Linked DNA regions of Homo sapiens: region 2 is reported to be linked to region 1. Evidence: microRNA targets listed by miRTarBase, many of them from high-throughput screens and not tested one by one. Region 1 holds a microRNA gene; the other region holds the end of a gene's coding sequence. Distances are from middle to middle.
Evidence for each region. The annotated mature microRNA hsa-miR-6751-3p reads ACUGAGCCUCUCUCUCUCCAG and lies in region 1 at 1,292-1,312, opposite strand. An mRNA with a match to its seed (bases 2 to 7 or 8) in the 3' UTR can be bound and repressed. Matches are read on the target gene's strand: a 7mer-m8 pairs with bases 2 to 8, a 7mer-A1 pairs with bases 2 to 7 and ends in A, and an 8mer does both.

Region 1 (5,000 bases):
GAGCTAGGGATGCTGGTGGAGGAGGCAGCAGCAACAACTGTAGTGGCAGTCTCCTCAGTGGAGTTGACTGAAGTGGCAGGCCGGGGGGGCCTGGGAAGAGAAGGGACGAGAGGCGGGCCTGGCCTTGGCATCCAAGGTTGGGCAGATTCTCCTGCCCTTGGTGAGCCTTGCAGAACAGAGTATAGAATGATGTGCCCTTGTGGCCCCAGTGCCTGGCAAACACAAGTGAACATGCTGAATGAACTCAGACAGGGTGACTGGACTCAAGGGCCAAATGATTCTATCCCTTAGCTGTAAGGTGCTTGCAGGCAGGGACTGTTGACCTGTTCACTCTTACCCTGCAGTCTCCACCCTGGGGAGTCAGGCACCTTATAGGGGACTCACTCAATAAGCCACAGTGCTCGAGCCTTGGACTCAAGTTCCTCTCCAAGCCTGTGCTGTCACTGCTAGATGCCAGGCATTATGTACATGTCACTTTTTTAAAAGACAGCGTCTCGGCTCTGTCACCAAAGCTGGAATTTAGTGGCACAATCATAGCTCACTGCACCCTCAAATTCCTAGGCTCAAACAATCCTCCTGCCTCAGCCTTCCAAAGTGCTGATTATAGGTGTGTATCTGGCAGTACACATCACTTATGAATATGAATTAAGACCCCTTTATTCAAATAATGAGAGGTCAAAAATGAGTGATGGGACCAGCGCTTGAACTTGAGCCAGGATGGCTCCAAGTGACTTCCTATTATTCGCTCCCTCAGTTTGGGGGCAGCAATTGCCAATCTAAGTGTCACCACATCTCAGAAGAATATCATGTGATGAACTAAAGCACTGCAAATTCTGAATAATTTGACTTTAGAAAAATATAAAGGAATAAGATCTAAAGTCAGCTCTCGAATAAACATCACTCCTACTTAGATCCAGACATGCTTTCTGGAGTGGGAAATAAAGGCACCAGGAGTTACCAAGAACTCCTGGAGACCCTTGGTGGGCCTGTAGATAGGCAGCCTGAATTGGCAGGTGTCAAAGGCCAAGAACCACTGCTGGGGACCTCTTGGCAGCTCCACTCCTGACCCACCAAACCCACTCTGCTTCCCCTGTACAGACACACCCCAAGGAGGCCAGCACGGTGAGGTACTGGTTGATCTGCAGCATGGCGGCGTCCAGCAGTGTGTGGATGTTACGCAGGCTCTGCAGCCGGGCCTCCAGGTGCTGCCGCTCATGGCCCTCCAGAGCTCGTAGCTCCTCTGGGGTCAGCCCAGCAAAGCCCGCAGGGGGCACAGGCATTGGGGGGAAGGCTGGAGAGAGAGAGGCTCAGTCTGGGCTGCTGGGGCCAGACACCAACCTCACCCCCAAGAAGAACCCAGAGAGTGGCCCAGCTTACCAAAGGGTGGAGGCAGGGGCATACCCATCCAGGGAGGAGGGAAGGGGAAACCAGGGGCAGGGCCAGCCTCTGGGGCAGAGCCAGAGCCTGGGCCAGATGCTGTGGCAGAAGCAGCAGTAGCACTGGTGCCAGCAGCTGTGGTTGTAGCTGCTCCACTGGGCCGAGAAAGGGCTGCTGAAGAGCAGGAACGAAGTCAGTGAGTGTTCCATCCCTGCCGCCCCCTGGCTGTCACAGTACCCAAAGGCTCACCTGCACTGGTGGATGGAGGAGCCACAGCCTCTCCTGAGCTGGGGGGAGGCGGGACAGGTGGAAAGGGGCCCATGGGGGGCCACAGTGGGAACATGCCTGGAGGAAAAGGAGGCAGGAGGCCCTGGGGGACTGCAGAGAGAAGACGGAGGTAAGGAAAGGGCCAAATGGACACAGACCCAACTCCCAGGCAGGGGGCCTGGCTATTGAGAGCTCTGTCCTATTCCCACAGGCCCTCAGCCCAGCACTGGTCACACTGACTGCAAGCATCTATTTCTCATCTTTTAATCCCTCCCTGGCCCAGACTGAGATTCTGGAGGGCAGGGACTCTCCAATTTCCCAGCATCTTCCACATCCAGCCCAGGGCAAGTATCCAGTGGTATGCCGGGTGGCCAGACAAGGGGATACTCACAGTTGGGGGGCTGAGGCAAGAGTGGTGGGGGGTGGGGGGCAGGGGGTGGCCCCTGATCCGCAGGCTCCGGGGGTGGTGGTGACTGCGCTGGCAGCGATGCACGAAGGACATCCATACGGCAGGTGGGGCAGGTCTGCTGCCGCTGGAACCAGGAGCGCAGGCAGCTGCGGGTCAAGGCCAGGCAGAGGTCAGCAGGTCCCTAGGGGCCTGCCTTCTGGGGCCTGTGCCCTGCTGTGCAGGCTCCCCAGGGCCCCTCCCACCTGGTATGGAAAATGTGGTTGCAGGGCAGTCTCTTGGCACCAGTCACCATCTCTTCTCGGCAGATGATGCAGACATTGTCCATTGCCTGGAGCTCCTCTGGGGTGGCATCTGGATACCTGGTTAGGATGACAGGGGCTGTATCAGGTCCAGAGCTGGAAGCAGAGGGACCCAGGACCGAGCTTGGGACAGCAGCCATGACAAGCCTACTTACAGGGTGTTCATGTTGCGGATGGCTCGGCGAGACATGATGGCATCTGTCACAGCTTTCTTGAACTGTCTGAAAGGACAGTCAGTGAAAGCAGGAGAAGGGACGGGATCAGGTCAGGAGGATCGGGGGACAGGGCCGGGCTCACCTCATGGCCAGGTACATGGGCCGGATGGCAAAGAGTGGGAAGGTGTGCACCTTGATCATGATGGTCATGAAGGCCATGTACAGCAGAACCTTGATGAAGCCTGAGGGGAGGGGATGCAGAAAGCAGCAGGTCACAGGGCCAGGAGGCAGAGTGGAGGATGCTGGTCCAGATCAGGAGAGGCCCAGGCCCCTCTCACCTGTAAACAGCTCTGTGTAGAGCATGTACACAGCCTTGTTGTCCCAGGGGTTCTCACTCTGGAGGTCCACGGAGTGCAGCACATACTTGATGAAGATGGTGAGCACCATCGTCATCAGGATGGCATACTGAAGGGAGAGGGGGACGAGGGGGATGTAAACACATAGCTCCCCCTTGCTGCACCCACATTGCTCCCCAAGGCCTCTGCACAGCAGGTGCAGTGGTACAATCACAGGCTCTAGACACACCCAGGGTCCTCCTAGCCCCTCCACTTACTAGCTGTGACTTTTGGCAACTCAGTGAACCTCAGTTTACTTATCTATAAAATGACATAATTAACTGTTCCTTTATAACAGTATTGTCTTGCTGAATAAGAGATGCAGGTCAGGAGCTCAGCATAGGGCCTGGTGTGAAATTCGCACTCAACAAATATGAGCTGTTGTCACTGAACACATTCTCTCTCTGCCAGGGACACGCCTCCAGTTGTCCATGGAACTAATCCTCTCCTGTCCATTACCAGCTAGCTCCGGCACGAGCCTCCAGGAACCCTCTCCTGAGCCCCAGGTTGGGGCTCCTCCTCTGTCCTAGCCTCTTTGTGCGTCTCCCCAGTCACCTAGGAGTGAGCGTGTGGAGGGCAGGAGCCATATCTGATCACTGCCCCTTGGTGGCCAGCACAGGTTGGCCACATAGCAGGTGCTGAGGAAGGGTCTGTTGGGTTATTCAAGGCACATGTGGGGTCACCTCGGGCTTGTCCTCTCAACCTCCCAAGCCAGTTTTACCTCAAAGCCAAACACCAGCTGCACAGAGGCCCCACGGGTCAGGATGCTGTGATAGGCGTGGCTGACGAAGAGGAAGTCCAGGATGCCCAGGAGGAACATAAGAGCTGTGGGGACCCCCACACATGCAGGGTGGGGGGGTCAGCCCAGGGCCCAACAGCTGTTTAATGCTCTAGGACAGCCCCACCCTCAAGCCCACCATGGCCCCAGCGATCTAGTCAGGTGGGCACACTCCACTGAACCTGGCCCTCTGGGAACTTCCTGGGGGAGGGGGAGTTGTTGGGGCTGCCCAGGCTGCAGGTGAGAAGGCAAAGGGCTGAGGGCCCAGGCAGTTGAGAAGCCCTAGAGTGGAACAGCACAGAGACTATGCAAATTAACTTCCTAAATTATCTTTCCTGTACAGCTGTGGGGGGTAGCCTGTGCTCTGGAGTACAGGTCCACGGTTCACGTTCCAGTCCTCCCTTCCCCTCCCCTGAATCTCACTCACAGACAATGCGGCAGTGAAAGAGCCAGGAGATGTTGGGGCTGCGTTCCATCTGAGGCAGAGCACAGAAGAGGCCTGTCAGGAGGCCTGGGGCTCACCCCACACCCTCAACCTAGCCCTCCCTGCTCCTTAAGCCTGCCCGCTGGCTACTCCCTGGCTTCCACCTGCTCCAGAACTCCCTGCCTTGACTCACAAAGTCCACACGGTCCTCAGCCAGCCAGTGGAAACATTTGAGGAAGAGAAGAAGAGTGAAGAGTGCAACAAAGCGGGGGCTGAAGTCATCCCGAAAAACGGTGAAGGCCAGACAAGTCTCTGTGACGGCGTACCAGGAACGTTCCAGAAGGTGCTGGGGGCCAGGCAGGGAATAATGTGGATACCAAACATTCTTTCCCAGCACCCTGCCCTCACCTTTGGGGCAGCCGACATCTTACCTCCATCTCTGCTGCCCTCAGTTGCCCAAAGAACACCTTGCCCATCACCTTGCCCAGAAGGAAGACAAGGACAAAGGCCTGGATGTACAGGACCTAGGAGTGGGGAGAGGCTGTGGTTTGAGGTCACTTTCTGCTTTCCTCTCCTTGGGACTCATCATGCAGGATCCTCCACATCCTCATCACAGTTTATTCAAAGTTAGGCAGCTGGCGGCTACTTCCCTACTTACCTGACCTCTAGCCCCGCCCCTTGCCCAGGCAGACTCCTCCTTCCCTCCCAGGGAGTTCCTCCCTCCCTGAGCCCTGAACTCACTGCCATGCTGGGGCTGGACTTGGTCAGGTACACCACAGTGGGGTAGAACTGGTGTTTGAGGTAGTAGGCGTGAGCCACCACAGCCCCGGTCAGCGCCAGGCTGGCCGCCATCATCACTGCCGTGCGGAACATTGCCCTGGCCCGGAGACCTGCAT
Region 2 (5,527 bases), 61 Mb from region 1:
TGTGTACATGGGGAGGACCGCAGCATGATTATCCCTATCTTTCTCAAGATTACCAAGAGTCCATGGTCCAAAAAATGTTAGGAACCACTAGGCAAGAATAAGGTCCTGTAGTGAAGCCCCCAGCCCCAGAGAATATTCTCAAGACTGCATCCTCTAAGCACCTCTTTTTGTATCTGGCAGCGACTGAAATAATGTGTTATGAATGTAAAAAATATCATCTTGGGTTATGCTATGGTGTCATGACATCCTGCTCCCTGAAGCATAAACAGTCCTGTGCAGTTGAGAACTTTTACATCCTTACAAGGAAAGGTAATGTGGAGTATAGAGTGACTGGAAAATCACCACCACCATCCCTGAGAAACAGTAGTGTTCTTTTGCCCTCAGCGTGAGTAGGTGAATGGGATGGGTGAGTATGGGGTGGTCTTGAGGGGATGGCAAAGACAGACTTTTCCCTAAGACCATATTGAGTGAAAAAGAGGCTGATGTCCCTTACCTGGCAGGGAATAAAATCTACTCTCTGGGTCAGCAATTAACAGACTCAGCTTTGGAACTCATTTGGGCCTAGAGAAAGGTTAGTGAGGACACAAAAACAGATTACTCCTAGGAACGCAGTAAAAGGAAATGAGGTCATTATGATCATATTTCCTCTCTTTTACCTCCTCAGGGCAGAGCATGTATCATTATTCAAAACTGTCGTGTATGACCAGCTGTGAGGACATCAACTTCCTGGGGTTCACGAAGAGGGTAGAGCTCATCTGTTGTGATCATAGTAACTACTGCAACCTCCCTGAGGGAGTTTAGTTCTACGTCTCTCCTGGATTTTGGGTTCTTTTTCAACCACTACGCTCTTTTTCTCTTCCCTGAACCTGAATTTTGCTCTCCTCTTCTATGCATTGGTAGAGAGTGAGAAAGCCAGCTCATAGTGAAAAGACAAGCAGGCATAAGGAGACGCAGTGTGGACAGCGGAGCCTATTGATGATGGAGCACTAGACTCACTCTTTGCACATCCCTGTCGCTAACAGGTGGGAGGGGTTTTGCTCTCCTTACGTGATACTGCCATGAATAAGCTCAGACTTGGTCATTTATTATCTCCTGTATGAAAATGTGAACACTTGGGCCATAATAATCTCCAATTTGTACTGAGAATTCTGTGACTATCCTCTATCCTCATCTACACACACACTCCTCTCCGTTGGAATTCTCTTTGGATTAGCCCTGACACTTTCTGGCACTGTCCTTTTCTGCCCGTGGGTTCTGGAGAGGGCTAACCCCAGCTTCCCAGTGTGTTGGCAGCATGGGCCAAGTCTTTCTCTGATAGAGCTCTTGGGGGAACCTCAGGGCAGAAAAAAAAAAACTGAACAGACATAGGGATGAGCATCAAAGAAAACTTCAGGGGGCATTTCAACTGGTAAAAACTAAGATCTGAGAAATAACTTGCTGTGGGTGGAATTGGCTTGAATTATCATTGCCCTGGCTGGCCAGGCAGCCTTGGGCACATGGTTGAACTAGGTGATTGGATTGGGAACAGAGTGTTTTTTTAAGGATGGCTAGTCAGGTTCTTCTCATGGGACTGAGCAAACAAAATGCTGATAATGTGGCAGGTGGTGTAGTAGTTGAAGATAATAGGATGTAAATAGATACCATGAGGTAGTGTTCAAGTAACAGAGTGCCCTGTGTAAGAGGAAGTTATGAGTTTGCAGAAAGTGTGAGAAAGGTAGCATATATGGGTAACAGTGGTGGGAAGAGAAGAAGGAAGACACAGAAACAGATAGGAAGAGAAACTGAGTAGCATTGATGTTGGAGCACACCTGTGGCCAAGGTGGCACATTTTCCTTGGATACACACTAACCCTGGTGTTTCTGTCCTTATAAGGCTGACTGCACCCTAGATGACGGGTTGATGGGTGCAGCAAACCACCATGGCACATGTATACCTATGTAACAAACCTGCATGCTGCACTTTCTTTCATGTATCCCAGAACTTAAAGTAAAATAAAAAAATAAATAAATAAATAAAGGCCAGAAAAATTGGCCAAAAAATCTGAATAGAAAAAGATATACAGATAGTAAATGAGCATATGAAAATATGCTTAACATCATATCTCACTAGGGAATTGCAAATTAAAACAACAATATTACGCAACTATACATTTTAAATGGTCAAAATCAAAAAAATAAAAAACCCTCACAGTAGCAATTTTTGTCAAAGATATAGAGCAATAGGAAATCTCATTTATTGCTGGCAGGAATGCAAAATGGTAATGCTGTTTTGGAAGACAGTTGGTAGTTTCTTAGAGAGGTGATTATACTCTTGCTATGTCATTCAGTAATCATGCCTTTAGATATTTACTCAACCAATTTGAACAGTTATGCCCACACAGAAACCTGCACACAAATGTTAAAATCATATTTATTCATAATTGCCTGAGACTAGAAGCAATAAAGATGCCCATCAATAAGTGAATGGATATGTAATCTATGGTACATCCAAACAGTGGGATGCTACTCAATGATGAAAAGAAATGATCTATCAAGCTATGAAAGGACATGGATACATTTTTAAATGAATATTGCTAAGTTAATGAAGCCAGTCTGAAAAGGCTACATACAGATGCTCCTCAACTTATGATGGGGTTATATCCTGTTATAACAATTGCAAGTTGAAAATACTGTGAACTGAAAATGCATTTAAAACACTTAACCTTCCAAACATCATAGCTTAGCCTAGCCTACCTTAAATGTGCTCAGGATGTTTACATTAGCCTATAGTTGGGCAAAAGCATCTAACACAAAGCCAATTTTATAATTGGCTTTGAGTATCTCATGTAATTGAGTATTTCATGTAATTTATTGACTACTCTACTGAAAGTAAAAAACAGAATGCTTGTATGGGTACTAAAGTATGGCTTCTACTGAATGCTTATTGCTTTCACACATCTTAAAGTTTAAAAAACTTGTAAGTCAAATCATTGTAAGTCTGGGAACATGTGTACTCTGATTCCAATTTTGTAAAAGACCAAAGTATAGGGTTGGTGAAAATATCAATGACTGCCAGTGGATTAAGAGGAAAAAAGGGATTGAATAGGTAAAGTATAAAAGATTTTTTAGGGTGATGAATCTATTCTGTATGATACTATACCAGTAAATACATGACACTATGCACTTGTCAAACCCCATAGAACTTTACTGCACAAAGAATGAAACAATGTATGAGAATTAAAAGAAAAATCATTTAGGAAGTCAGAGGATTCCAGGAAGGAATGCACAATGTGACAAAAATGATGTAACTGTTACAAATGTGTGAAACAATCTCTCTGAGTTGAGTTGGGGGAAAAGTTTCTGATCTGAGTAACTTTGTAAATGAGTGGAGCCTGTAAGCTTAAAGGCAAAAGAAAATGTACACAAGCTCTGCACTCTACTTGATAAAATTGTTTTCCCCAAGGTTATAGGTTAATAATTCTGATACTGCTCTACAGGTACACTGTAATTGAACTCCTAAGCAAATGAATGGGGGCTGGGGGAATCCAGGTTTCTCACTGTTGGAGTTAGAAGTTACAGATAAGCAAGAGAAAGGTGCTAGAATGATCAATGAGGTAATGAATTAGACATCAGTATGAATTCATATTTAGTTAAATATAAATACAGATTATTTATAAATATGTATATAAAAGAAATATTTATAAATATGTATATTTATGAGTTATTATACATACATATATTTCCTTGCTCTGTCAAATAACAATAACAATAGTAATGAGTACCCCTAGCACCCAGACTGTGGTTTCTAATACCATTCTCAAAAAAAAAAAAGAAATCAGAAGTCCTTGGAGAAATGGCTGATTGTAGGACTGGGGCAGGAAATTAAATGAAGAGAAGATGAGCCTGTAAATCTGAGGGAGTATATCAGAGGGAAATAGGAACAAACAGAGAGATCTCCCCATGGCCCAAACTGGATCAATTTGAATGACAAAATAAATGAGCCCAAAGGTTAAAATAAATTACCATGAATACAAGATGAATGCATAAATAAATAATTGAAAAAAATGGGAGAAATGATCTGATTGTCCCAGCTCATTATTTGTTGTTACTTTCGTAGATCCATTGCTAGTCTACACATTTGTCTGCACTTGCCTCAGGTGCCTGCTGTAGTGCGAAAGGCCATGTGGTTGTGTTGTGGAGGACATGGCTACACAGGGGCTGTGGCCCTCACAGATCACTTTAGAAGGAGGCTTGGAAGACACAAGCAAGCATGGTCGAGCCTAGCTGTCTCCTTTCCTTCTGTGTGTAGCCATCCTCTGCTTTATCTAGCAACCATTGTTATAACTTTAACACATTATGAATTTGTTCTTACTTCTTACAAAGTTACATAAAAATGTACTCTCTCACTGTCCTCCACGTTATTAAATCCCTATTGAATTATGACTAAGCAGTCAGCTACTGACAGCCCAGCCCTTGAGAAACTCTGCTTCTTTCCCGCTAACAACTCATGGCCGCACTCTTCTGAGCATTGCTCTCAGACAGGAGGAGCTTCTCACTTGAAATGACTGGAAGGTTTGCCCTCTCCCCAAGGGTGACCCACAGCCAATGGTTGACTGATATGTGTGAATAAAAGGGAGGTTAACTTGCACAAGTTGGGGCTGGGTATAGTGTCATTTATGTTCCAGAGTTATCTTTTGGACAAAGCCTGACTTCACCTGAATCACATCTTCTTCAAGCATCACCCCATTGTACCGTTTGCCTCATTCCCTTATAGTTTTCTCCTGAGAGCACTTCCTCACTGCATTATTTGCATCAGAATCCTCTTCTCAAGTTCTGCTTCTGTGGAACCTGGCCAAAGACAGTTGGTAACAGGAGTGGTCACAAAAAGCAGGCCATAATAAGGAATATTGCATTGGATTGTTCAACTGGCTAAATGTCAATGAGTACCCTATGGTGGTATTTGGAGTACTGACCGTTGCTGATATGTGGTAGCAGTGTGATTGTTAAAACTTTCAATTGTGGTGAACTTGGACTTAGAAGAGGTGGAAGATGAATTTGCTTGTGGGTATCTCTGACTCTGAGAAATGCAGAGATGATAGTGATGATAAGGATTGTGGCATTGGATGGCTGTTGCTAAGCATGATTGGAGCACCAAAGACAGAAAATAGCAGGCTCGTATTTATTAATCCAAAAATTTAGAGCAAAGTGTGAGTCAGAGGCCTTTCTTGGCAGCATTTAGAAATACCTTCATTTCTTGCAGCTGATAATGAGGCAAGGCATTCAACTGTAAGGGTTGGAGAACTTTAGAGAGAATGAAATTCTTAGCCCAGACAAGTCTCCTGAGCCAAAGTCAGGGCCCTCATAAGGAAGGAGTGTGACTCTGAGACTTGGGATAATGGGGATATCTGGATTGGTATACTTAACTCCTTAAGCCCTGAAATTTTTCTTTTGTCCCAATGACCATGCAGGAAGATAGCAGTCTTCTTGCTAGAACAGCATGGAAAGACCACAAAAATGTCTTACAGGATAATGCCTGACTTTCCCAGGAT

Region 2: miRTarBase lists PATE2 as a target of hsa-miR-6751-3p. Seed matches in the 3' UTR shown: 7mer-A1 at 1,067-1,073.

The regions. Positions count from the first base shown.
Region 1 is chr11:65,128,625-65,133,624 of GRCh38, forward strand. It overlaps MIR6751 (microRNA 6751), which reads right to left and starts at 1,354; the gene lies at 1,292-1,354. SYVN1 (synoviolin 1) reads right to left here. Exons shown (of 16, transcript NM_172230.3): 2 at 4,846-4,994; 3 at 4,536-4,628; 4 at 4,298-4,450; 5 at 4,108-4,156; 6 at 3,624-3,727; 7 at 2,846-2,972; 8 at 2,650-2,749; 9 at 2,508-2,573; 10 at 2,296-2,412; 11 at 2,036-2,199; 12 at 1,627-1,755; 13 at 1,378-1,551; 14 at 1,105-1,291; 15 at 1-90. The coding sequence starts at 4,977. RefSeq lists an enhancer at 3,726-3,775 and a silencer at 4,498-4,674.
Region 2 is chr11:125,772,656-125,778,182 of GRCh38, reverse strand. It overlaps PATE2 (prostate and testis expressed 2), which reads left to right. Exons shown (of 4, transcript NM_212555.3): 3 at 181-309; 4 at 665-2,070. The coding sequence ends at 801. Among named protein-coding and RNA genes, the nearest start is that of PATE2, 3.4 kb to the left of the region's middle.